Regions from separate parts of the Homo sapiens genome. Here region 2 is linked to region 1. The links come from fine-mapping of genetic effects on gene expression. A gene starts in region 1. The other region holds a variant in brackets. All regions are shown on one strand. Distances are from middle to middle. Region 1 holds the start of SGF29 (SAGA complex associated factor 29). Region 2 overlaps SGF29 (SAGA complex associated factor 29).

The links. PIP is the estimated chance that this variant, and not a neighbour inherited with it, causes the effect.
Region 2: its variant is fine-mapped to the expression of SGF29 in monocytes after R848 (Quach 2016, PIP 0.95). The same link has a PIP of 0.9 or more in activated naive CD4 T cells.

What each region holds. Positions count from the first base shown.
Region 1 is chr16:28,551,043-28,556,410 of GRCh38, reverse strand. SGF29 (SAGA complex associated factor 29) reads right to left here and starts at 2,491. Exons shown (of 10, transcript NM_138414.3): 1 at 2,314-2,491. RefSeq lists a silencer at 2,063-2,182 and an enhancer at 2,203-2,522.
Region 2 is chr16:28,588,913-28,594,280 of GRCh38, reverse strand. SGF29 (SAGA complex associated factor 29) reads right to left here. Exons shown (of 10, transcript NM_138414.3): 5 at 5,117-5,181; 6 at 4,056-4,185; 7 at 3,839-3,985; 8 at 3,615-3,650; 9 at 3,346-3,508; 10 at 2,491-2,691. The coding sequence ends at 2,575. SULT1A2 (sulfotransferase family 1A member 2) reads left to right here. Exons shown (of 8, transcript NM_001054.4): 5 at 713-839; 6 at 935-1,029; 7 at 1,838-2,018; 8 at 2,141-2,338. The coding sequence ends at 2,253. Among named protein-coding and RNA genes, the nearest start is that of SULT1A2, 5.5 kb to the left of the region's middle. The variant T/C (reference allele first, on the strand shown) is at 2,611.

The sequences.
Region 1 (5,368 bases):
GCGCCATTGCAATCCAGCCTGGGCAACAAAGAGTGAAACTCCGTCTCAAAACAAACAAACAAACAAACAAAAAATTAGCCAGGCATGGTGGTGCATGCTTGTAATCCCAGCTACTCAGGAGGCTGAGGCAGGAGAATCACTTGAACCCGGGAGGCAGAGGTTGCAGTGAGTTGACATTGCACCACTATACTCCGGCCTGGGTGACAGAGCGAGACTCCATCTCAAAAATAAATAAATAAATAAATAGAATCTATATTCATCAATTGGTTAAAGAGACATTAAGAAGACAATTTTTTTCCTTCATGCCTCTGTATTGCAACTTATGCCAGTGTTTCTCATTTAAACCTTACAGCAATCCTATAAAATAGATAACAGAATAGTAAGTATAGTGAAGAAACTGAAATTCAGATAGGTTATGCTAGGTAACTCAGGAAAAATAGGTAGTTGAGCTGGGGCTGCAAGGCTGCAAGTTCTAAAACCTATGCTCTTCCTCTGAATTCCAAGTTGTGTCACGACTTCAGCATATTCAATAGTAAAAGAGATCACAAAAGTGGAAGCTGCCAACCCACCATTAGGCTATTATGACAACACTCAAAGTATCACCAGTAAAATGATGATTGAGGCAACTGAAAAACAAAGCTAGGGAAATGTGATGGTTAACTTTATGTGTCAAACTGATTGGGCTAGGGGATTCCCAGATAGCTGGTGAAACACTTTAGAGTGTGTCTGTGAGTTTCCTGAGGGTTTGCTTTCCTGGGCTTCCAGCTTGCAGATGGCAAATCTCGGGACTTCTCAGCCTCTATAATAGTGTCACCCAATCCATCACAATAAATCTCTTTTAAAATAGCTATACAGTTGACCCTCAAACAATGCAGGTTTTAATTGTGCAGGTCCACTTATATGTGGATTTTCTTCCACCTCTAGAACTCTTTTTTGAGACAGGGTCTTGCTCTGTCACCCAGGCTAGAGTGCAGTGGCACGATCTTGGCTCACTGCAGCATCCACCTCCTGGGTTTAAGTGATTATTGTGCCTCAGCCTCCCAAGTAGCTGGGATTACAGGCGTGCACCACCACGCCCGGCTAATTTTTTAATTTTTTTTTTTTTTTTTAGAAGAGACTGGATTTCACCACGTTGCTCGGGCTGGTCTCAAACCCCTGAGCTCAGGCAGTCTGCCCACCTCGGCCTCCCAAAGTGCTAGGATTACACGCATGAGCCACCGCGCCTGGCCAGTATTTACATTTAAAATGTGAAACTGGGATTGCGGTGGCTCATGCCTGTAATTCCAGCATTTGGGGAGGCTTTGGTTAGGAGGACTGCTTAAGCCCAAGAGTTTGAGGCTGCAGTGAGCTGTAATAACACCACTGTTCTCCAGTCTGAGCAACAGAGAACGTGTCTCTAATAAAAACAAAAATGTGAGATGATGCCTAGGTTAGAATCAGCAGAGGAGAAGCCAGAGAGAGCAGAGGCAAAGGAAGAGAACGTTCAGCAAGCCAAATGAAAACAGTGTTTCAAGGAGGGGCAGTGATCCACAGCATCAAATGCTGAACAGGACTGAGACCTAACTTAACAATGCATTTGGCCACCTAGAGATCACTGGTGGCTTTGACAAGAAGCCTTTTTAGTGGAGTGGTGGAGACCAAAGCCTGACTAGAGGCTCAAGGGTTCAAGACTTGGAGGAGAAAAGGCATTAGTGAGGGTAGACTAAGGCCTTTGGCTGCAAACCGGAGCCGAGGAGGAGGTAACTGGAGGATAGCGAGGGTGAAGGAGGCTGTTTTGTTGTTCTTAAGACGGGCATTTTTTGGCCGGGCGCGGGGGCTCACGCCTATACTCCCCACACTTTGGGAGGCCGAGGCGGGAGGTTGAGCCTCCTGGGCAAACGACGAGCTGTTAGTGTATCTTGTTAAGAACTATATATATATACAAAATTTTTGTGCAAATCATAAAATAAGTGCTGGAGTTCGGGGCCCATCCTCTGTCCGCATCTTCGTGACCCGGGTCCGAGTACCCCACCTGGAAGCTGCGTCCGTGCCGAGCCCAGCGTGTCGCTGTTTCCCACCCTCGCCGGGGATGGAAGCACGCAAGCGCAGACCTCGAGCGGCCGGGCGCAGGGCCCGCCCTCCCCGAGCCCCGGCCCCGCCCTCCTCTCCCGCCCCCACCCCCACGAGCCCCGCCCCCCTCCCGCCCAGAGCGCGTGCGCACCGCCCCTAGAGCGCCGCCTCAGGGAGGTCGGGAGCCGCGGCGCGGAGGGAGGACTCAGCCCTTCGCTCCCGCGTTTCGCCGGAGGTCTCAGGCCACGGCCCGTCGCCACCTACCGAGTCCGGGACAAAACAAGCTCGTCGGGCTGGAAACTGCGACGAGGGGAGCAGGCGCGTTCCTCGAACCCTTTTTCGGAGTCTGCGGATGATCACAGACCTGCGTTCGAAGATTGGCGGCACGTCGAGAACCGCACACGCTTTTTTTTCCTTTTATGAGCGTAGTCGCGCGCGGAGGACCTTGCACGCATGCGTAGTCGTTCCTCTGTGACGTGACCCGCTGCCCCGTGGGAAATGTAGTTTTCACTTGGCACACCGCTCCGGCTCTTGGCGGAACCCTAATTTAACCAACCAAAGTGCTTGTGCGTTTTCAGCGTTTTCTCCCATTTCCCCAGACTCTATTTAAAACAAAATGCAATAAATAAATAAATAAATAAAACTTGAAAGCGAACAGATTGCTGCTTGCTGGAGGTGGGTGGGCGCAGGGGTAATATGAAAACTGTACTTTCTGCTCAATTTTGTTGTGAACCTAAAAATGCCCTAAAAAATAAAAGTCTGTTGTTAAAAAATTAATTAAAAACAGGCCGGGCGCGGTGGCTCACGCCTGTAATCCCAACACTGGGACGCTAAGGCGGGCGGATCACCTGAGTTCAGGAGTTTGAAACCAACCCGGCCAACATGGTGAAACCCCGTCTCTACTAAAAAATACAAAAATCAGCCGGGCGTGGTGGCGGGTGCCTGTAATCCCAGGTACTGGGGAGGCTGAGGCTGGAGAATCGCTTGAATTCAGGAGGCGGAGGTTGTAGTGACTGGAGATTGTACCATTGCACTCCAGCCTGGGTGACAAGAGGGAAACTCCATCTCAAAAAAACAAACAAACAAAAAACAAGCAGATCTTTAGACCCAGAAATCGCACTTCTAGGGAATCTTCTCAGGAAAGTACTAAGGATATGGACGTGCAATGGACATGTAGCCTCAATGGTATTTTATCGAAAGCCATCCTGGTATCTTAAAGTTTCTTACATAACCTACAAATGTCTGTAATTATTTGTTGATTATTTGATAAACTTGCAAGTCCTATGAGATTGGGATCATCTTGTGTTCACCTGTGTATTCCTAGTACCTAGCACAGTGCCTGGCCATCACATGTTTCTTTTTTTTTCTCTTTGAGACAGGGTCTCGCTCTGTTGTCCAGGTTGGAGTGCAGTGGTGCCATCAGGGCTCCTGAGTAGCTAGGACTACAAGCACACACCAGCACATTCTGCTGATTTTTAAATTTTTTTTGGTAGAGATGGGGGTCTTGCTATGTTGCATAGGCTGGTCTTGAGTTCCTGGGCTCAAGCGATCCTCCTGCCTCAGCCTCCCAAAGTGCTGGGATTACAGGCATGAGCCACCAACCTCAGCCCCGTCAGTATTTTTCTGTTTATTAGAGAATCTCAGGCGTTAGCACTGAAACTATGTTAACCCCAAAATTAATGCATCATTTTCTTCCATCACACTTGCAGTTCTTTCTGTGGGCGTCAGGTCAGTGAATGACATGCCCATCCACCCAGCTGCAGTTCTACTTACTGCCTTTTATGAAGGTTATGCTTTGAGGGATTTTGCAAATTTTGCATTTGTAAAGGTCTCAGGGGCTCTTTTTCCTGATTGTTAAATATCAGCCCTAGCTAGGCCAGGCGTGGTGACTCACGCCTGTAATCCCAGCACTTTGGGAGGCCGAGGTGGGCAGATCACGAGGTCAGGAGTTTGAGACCAGCCTAGCCAATATGATGAAACCATGTCTCTACTAAAAATACAAAAATTAGCTGGGCATGGTGGCACGCACCTGTAGTCCCAGCTACTCTGGAGGCTGAAGCAGGAAAGAACCACTTGAACCCAGGAGGCGGAGGTTGCAGTGAGCCAAGATTGCGCCACTGCACTCCAGTCTGGGCAACAGAGCAAGACTCTGTCTCAAAAAATAAATAAATAAAATAAATTTAAAAAATCAACCCTAGTCACTGATCAGGAGAGATGTAGAGCTTACAGTTGTTTTTTAAATTATTTTGGTCTCTGCCCTGTTTTAAAATTTTATCGTTAATTTCTGATTTTTCTACAATAAACATGTATTTATTAACTTTTTAAAAAGTGTTTTAGAGTGTTGTCCACATGTAAGGAATTGCTCTGTCTTCTCCACATCCACATTTCTCAAAAGAATCATCTATACTCAGTTTTCATGTCCCACCTCCTACTTAGTACAATGTCCTGAGCCAGCACCTGGGGGTTATCCCTGACATCACCCTTTCCCTCCCCTCCCTCATTCAATCCACCACGTGTCTGCAATATAAAAACACATTTGTTAGGCACTTGCTATGCACCGGGCACTGTTCAAAATCCTTTACACATATTCATTCATATAACACAATCCACCTACTTTTCACCTCCACCACATCCACCCTAGGCCAAAGTAGGGACATCTTCCCTAAACAACTGCAAAGGTTCTCTGTTTTTTAATCGCTGGTGCTAAGGTTGAGTTACTTATTTCTACTTAATGACACACTTCGTCATTGGGCTCTGCACGGCCTCTCTATTTATTTGTTATTTTAAAAATTTTTTTGAGACAGAGTCTCACTCTGTCACTCAGGCTGGAGTGCAGACGCGCGCCACGACGCCCAGCTAATTTTTTATATTTTTAGTAGAGATGGGGTTTCACCATGTTGGCCAGGCTGGTCTCAAACTCCTGACCTCAGGTGATCCACTAACCTCAGCCTCCCAAATTTCCTGGGATTACAGGCGTGAGCCAGCGCGCCAGGCCTCAGCCCTCTGCTTTCAACACCTGTCATTGTGGGCACACTTTACCTATGACTTACAGCAACCATGCAATATTTCGAAGTGGGCAGCAACATTTCAGTTATGATGGACCTGTAAGTTGCCTCCAACTACTACTGGCTACCACAAACAATGCCACAGTGAACAACCTCATGCTTATTCCCCTGCGGTCTATATGAAGATTTCTCTGAGATGTATGCCCACTAGTGAGACTGAGCAATGCCATCTTAAATGATCTCCCCTCATCTATTCGGGCCAGAGTGGCACATGCCTACAATCCCACTGCTTTGGGAGGCTGAGGCTAGAGGAT
Region 2 (5,368 bases), 38 kb before region 1:
TAGTCCCAGCTACTCAAAAGTCTAAGGTTGGAGGATTGCTTGAGCCTGGGAGGTCAACGTTGCAGTGAGCTATTCTCACTCCAGTGCACTCCAACCTGGGCAACAGGAAAAAAGAAAGCCCAAGGTCTTTTTTCTCTTTTCTCTTTTTTTTGAGACCTAGAGTCCCCCCCCCCAAAAAAAAAAAAAAACCACAACAAAAAGAAAAAAGCAAAGGTCCAGGTGTGGGGCATGTGAATCCAGGGAAGGAGGCCCCGGCTCAGCCCAGCTTTGGTCCTGTTCTTCTGGGAGAGTCGCCTCACTTCCTCCAGACTTGTCTCATCTTCCACGGGGGGGACTGTCTGCCTTTTGCTCTGATGACCAAAAACATGAGACTCTTCCGGGTAGACCTAAGAAAGGTAGAGGGTGGGTCCTCACAGGCCCACAAAATTTGGTGGTGGTGGGAACATGCCTGGTGGAGCATGCCTTGCTCCAGATCGGGGTGTGACGCATTGATGCAGATTATATTACTATAGAATATGATGGTCTCAGGGACCAGGCAGGACTTTGGCTTTTGAGCAGGGTTCAGATCCTGACTTGGCCCTACCTGTGCCGTGAGATCTCAAACAAGTCAGCCTCTAAGCCTCAGCTTCCTCCTTTGCCAAACCAAGAGATGAGCTGGCCTGGGGCAGGCTGTGTGGTGATGGTGCTGGGGTTGAGTCTTCTGCCCCTGCAGGTGGTCTATGTTGCCCGCAACGCAAAGGATGTGGCGGTTTCCTACTACCACTTCTACCACATGGCCAAAGTGTACCCTCACCCTGGGACCTGGGAAAGCTTCCTGGAGAAGTTCATGGCTGGAGAAGGTGGGCTTGATGGGAGGAAGGAAGGTGTGGAGCTAAGGGGTGGTGGCTACAACGCACAGCAACCCTGTGTCGGCACTCCCTGCCCGCTTCTCCAGTGTCCTATGGGTCCTGGTACCAGCACGTGCAAGAGTGGTGGGAGCTGAGCCGCACCCACCCTGTTCTCTACCTCTTCTATGAAGACATGAAGGAGGTGAGACCGCCTTTGATGCTTCCCTCCACGTGACACCTGGGGGCAGGCACTTCACAGGGACCTGCCAAGGCCACCCAGCCACCCTCCCTGGGCGGCCCCTCCAGCAGGCCCGGATTCCCCATCTTGACTCCCTGGCCCAGGCCCCACTGCAGCCCCATGTGGCAGCAGGCTGGGCACAGCTCTCATCTCCTGTGCCTGAGTCAGCTGCACGGGTGGCCATGGATCAGCTACTTTTTTTTTTGAGACAAAGTCTTGCTCTGTTGTCCAGGATGGCATGCAGTGGTGTGATCTCAGCTCAGTGTAACCCCCCCTCCCAGGTTCAAGTGATTCTCCTGCCTCAGCCTCCTGAGTAGCTGAGATTACAGATGCACACTACCATGCCTGGCTAATTTTTGTGTTGTGCCATGTTGGCCAGGTTGGTCTCCATCTCCTGAGCTCAGGTGATCCGCCTGCCTCAGCCTCCCAAAGTCTTGGGAATTACACGCCTGAACCACGGCCCCTTGCCACAGATCAGCTATCTATTCCAATTGCTTCTCCCTGCCAATGGTTATGCCACCCAGGGCCACAGGCACGGAAGAAGACCATCCCAGTCCTTACCCATAGGAGCCAAGCCCAGCTCATGATGGGATCACAGGGCAGACAGCAATTCATTTTGCCCCAGGGACTGGGGTCCCAGGGGTCGAGGAGCTGGCTCTATGGGTTTTGAAGTGGAAGTGGCCAGTTCCCCTCTGAGGTTAGAGAAGTGGACCCCTTTTATTTTCCTGAATCAGCAATCCAAGCCTCCACTGAGGAGCCCTCTGCTGCTCAGAACCCCAAAAGGGAGATTCAAAAGATCCTGGAGTTTGTGGGGCGCTCCCTGCCAGAGGAGACTGTGGACCTCATGGTTGAGCACACGTCGTTCAAGGAGATGAAGAAGAACCCTATGACCAACTACACCACCGTCCGCCGGGAGTTCATGGACCACAGCATCTCCCCCTTCATGAGGAAAGGTAGGTGCCGGCCAGCACGGGGGTTTGGAGCAGGTGGGAGCAGCAGCTGGAGCCTCCCCATAGGCACTCGGGGCCTCCCCTGGGATGAGACTCCAGCTTTGCTCCCTGCCTTCCTCCCCCAGGCATGGCTGGGGACTGGAAGACCACCTTCACCGTGGCGCAGAATGAGCGCTTCGATGCGGACTATGCGAAGAAGATGGCAGGCTGCAGCCTCAGCTTCCGCTCTGAGCTGTGAGAGGGGTTCCTGGAGTCACTGCAGAGGGAGTGTGCGAATCAAGCCTGACCAAGAGGCTCCAGAATAAAGTATGATTTGTGTTCAATGCAGAGTCTCTATTCCAAGCCAAGAGAAACCCTGAGCTGAAAGAGTGATCGCCCACTGGGGCCAAATACGGCCACCTCCCCGCTCCAGCTCCTCAACTTGCCCTGTTTGGAGAGGGGAGAGGGTCTGGAGAAGTAAAACCCAGGAGACGAGTAGAGGGGGAATGTGTTTAATCCCAGCACGTCCTCTGCTGTCCTGCCCTGTGTCGTTGGGGGATGGCGAGTCTGCCAGGCGGCATCACTTTTTCTTGGGTTCCTTACAAGCCACCACGTA[T/C]CTCTGAGCCACATTGAGGGGAGGGGAATAGCCATCTGCATAGGAGGTGTCTTCAAACAGGACCGAGTAGTCATCCTGGGGCTGTGGGGCAGGCAGACAGGAGGGGCTGCTCAGAGACCCCCAGGCCAGGACAGGCACCCCCTTCCCCCAGCCTAGACCACAGGAGGCTCTGGGCCGTGGACTCTCAGCCACTCCTAACATCCTTCACTCTGGGGTCAAGAAGTCTTGGCCCAGTCCCTGCTGCTACAGAGCTCTTTTCTCAGTGGCTGGAGACCCAAGGCAGGGAATAGGCAGGGAGGAGTAGGGGTGCTGACTCCCTTCCTAGTGGGGTCATAGCTGGAGGGTCTGCTGCCTTTCAAGGACTCTTTGTTGAGAGGACTGAGGGCAACCCAGAGGGTGGCAGGCAGGGATCCTGGCCTCAGGTGGCTTGTGTCCCATGTCACCAAGAGCACAAGGCGGTAGGAGCCCAGGGCTCAGGGCAGGAGCTTCCCATCTCGGAGCTGGTTCTCCTGGGGCTGGAAGCCACTGACTCGGGGCTTGCCAAGGCTGCCAGGGCTGGCAAAGGGATGGTGGCCTTTGGGGCTGGAGTGGAAGAGGGAGGGCAGCTGGTGGGTCCTGTCAGCTTGGAGCCTGTGAGATGAGGACAAAGGGAAGGAGTGGGGAGAGGACCCCTCGTCTGTCTGATCAGCCTGTTCCTGACATCACCCATGGCCTCTCCCCTGGAGGCTGCTTTACCCGCTGTGGGGGCGCATGGATCAGGGCGCGGTAGAAGCAGGTAGTCTGGGGATACAGGGCCAGCACGAGCTGCTCCTTCTGGAACAAGGCCTCAGGGTCCGTCTCCGGGTTGGCCTTCCACTGGGGCAGCGGGATGACACGGCGCCGGCTCAGGGTGTGTCTCCTGGGGGAAGAGGGGCTTATATCAACCTGTGGCCGGGTGGGGATGCTCCTTCTCAGCTGTTAGGCTGCCCCCAGGCTCCATGCCCTGCCCTGGCCTGGACACTCACTCTTTGCCTTCTTCATCGATGTCATCTACCTCATACCTGCAGACAAAAGGAGGAAAAGGCTGGATGCAGCCAGGGGCGCAGTACCTGTTGGGGAGTGAGGATGGGGGAGGACCTGGTGCTCCCTGCACAACCAGCCTCTGGGGAGCACCCTCTGCAGAGCTTTTCTCCCGTAGCCCAGGCAAGTTCGGTGACCAGAGAGCAGCCCCAGGGTTGGTGTCACTCACTTGTTGGTGGCATGGCTGTAACTGACCACCTCGGCCAGGATCCACTGCTCGTCCCCATCCACGGCCTTCACCCGGGCAGCCACCTTGTCTCCAGGTCTGGCCACGTAGTCTCCTGAGGCAGGGATGGCCCCACAGAGGGGTGGGGGCCTGTGAGTGGAACAAAGGGTCAGTCCCAGCCCCTGGGCACCAGCCCCTCCCTCGCAGCTGCTGCCCTCACTTGTCACCAGGCTTCCCGATCCACAGGGGCAGGGTCATGGCCGACTGCTGCAGCAGGGTCATCAGCACCCCTCTGCGCATGGTCTTCCGGGGTGGCTCCGAGTCATTGTAGAGACCGGCAATCTTGGCCGCTGTGGGAAGGAAGGGAGGCCTGAGGCCCCAGGGATAGGTGCCGGCCTTGACCCCCGAGCATGCTGCACTGAGCTGTTGAAGGAGCACCTGGGAGCCCCCAGTTCCCGAGTGAGCCCGAGGGCCCAGCAGGACTGTGACCCCATCGGCCATGTGTCAGCACCTATAGGGGCTGCTGGGTTTAACTACAGTTGGGTGAGATGGCAGCACAGCGGGGATCCAGGGGGAGGAACCAGAAGAAAGAAAGCGGGTTCCAAGGTGCTGTTCAGGCTGTGTTTGCTGATCTGAATGCTGGTTACAGAAGTGTGTTCAGTTAGTGACTATTTCATTGAACTCTGCACTTATGTGTACTTTTCTTCTATTAATATACATTGTAATTCAACAGAAAGTTAAAAAAACCAAAAAAAAAATTAAATGTGCACCTTCAACCTCCTCAGGCACAGCTGGACACCCCACTTGACTTCACACAGAACCAGCATGGCTGTGTGGGGACACTGACATGCCAAGATTCTGCCCACCATGGGATTGTTGGGAGGGCAGACAGGTAGGAGAGCCTAATGCAGGCTGAGGGGGTCTGGAAGGCTGGCTTTACGACACACAGCGTGTGGCTCTGCAGAAACCAGCCAGGGCAACAGATGGGCATGGGCCATGGCAGAGGAGGGGGCGACTGGCCCAGGCCCCAGAAGGGGCAGGAGATGAGGGGCCAGGGCGGGATGATCTCTGGCTGCTGAGGGAGAACTGGGAAACCCCTGCCTCTGGGCACTGGGAATGACCTCCTGTCCCTTCTCAGTGGTAGAGCCAGTCTGCCAGAGCCTCCATGGGAGGATGCCAGCAGGTGGTGGCCACAGGCCCCCACAGGAGGGTGACTGCTGCCCGCAGGGCCTCTCCTCTTGTCCTAGCAAAGGACCTCCCAGCATGTTCTCTCCCACTCACCAATCCGCCTCTCTTCCAACAGAGACTTGATTTCCGCGATCTTGTCCAGAGCTTTCCGAAGGATGCTGAGGGCGGGGAGAAGGGAGAAAGAGGGTTTGGTTAACGTACATAGCATAGACTTCTCTTCCATTTTTTCTGTTTTGGGTCAAGCTACATTGCCCAGGCTGGTCCCGGACTCCAGAGGTTCTCACAGTAGCCTCCTGCGCAGGTGGAATGACAGGTGTGTGCAGGTTCCTGTTCTGGTCAAGGTGG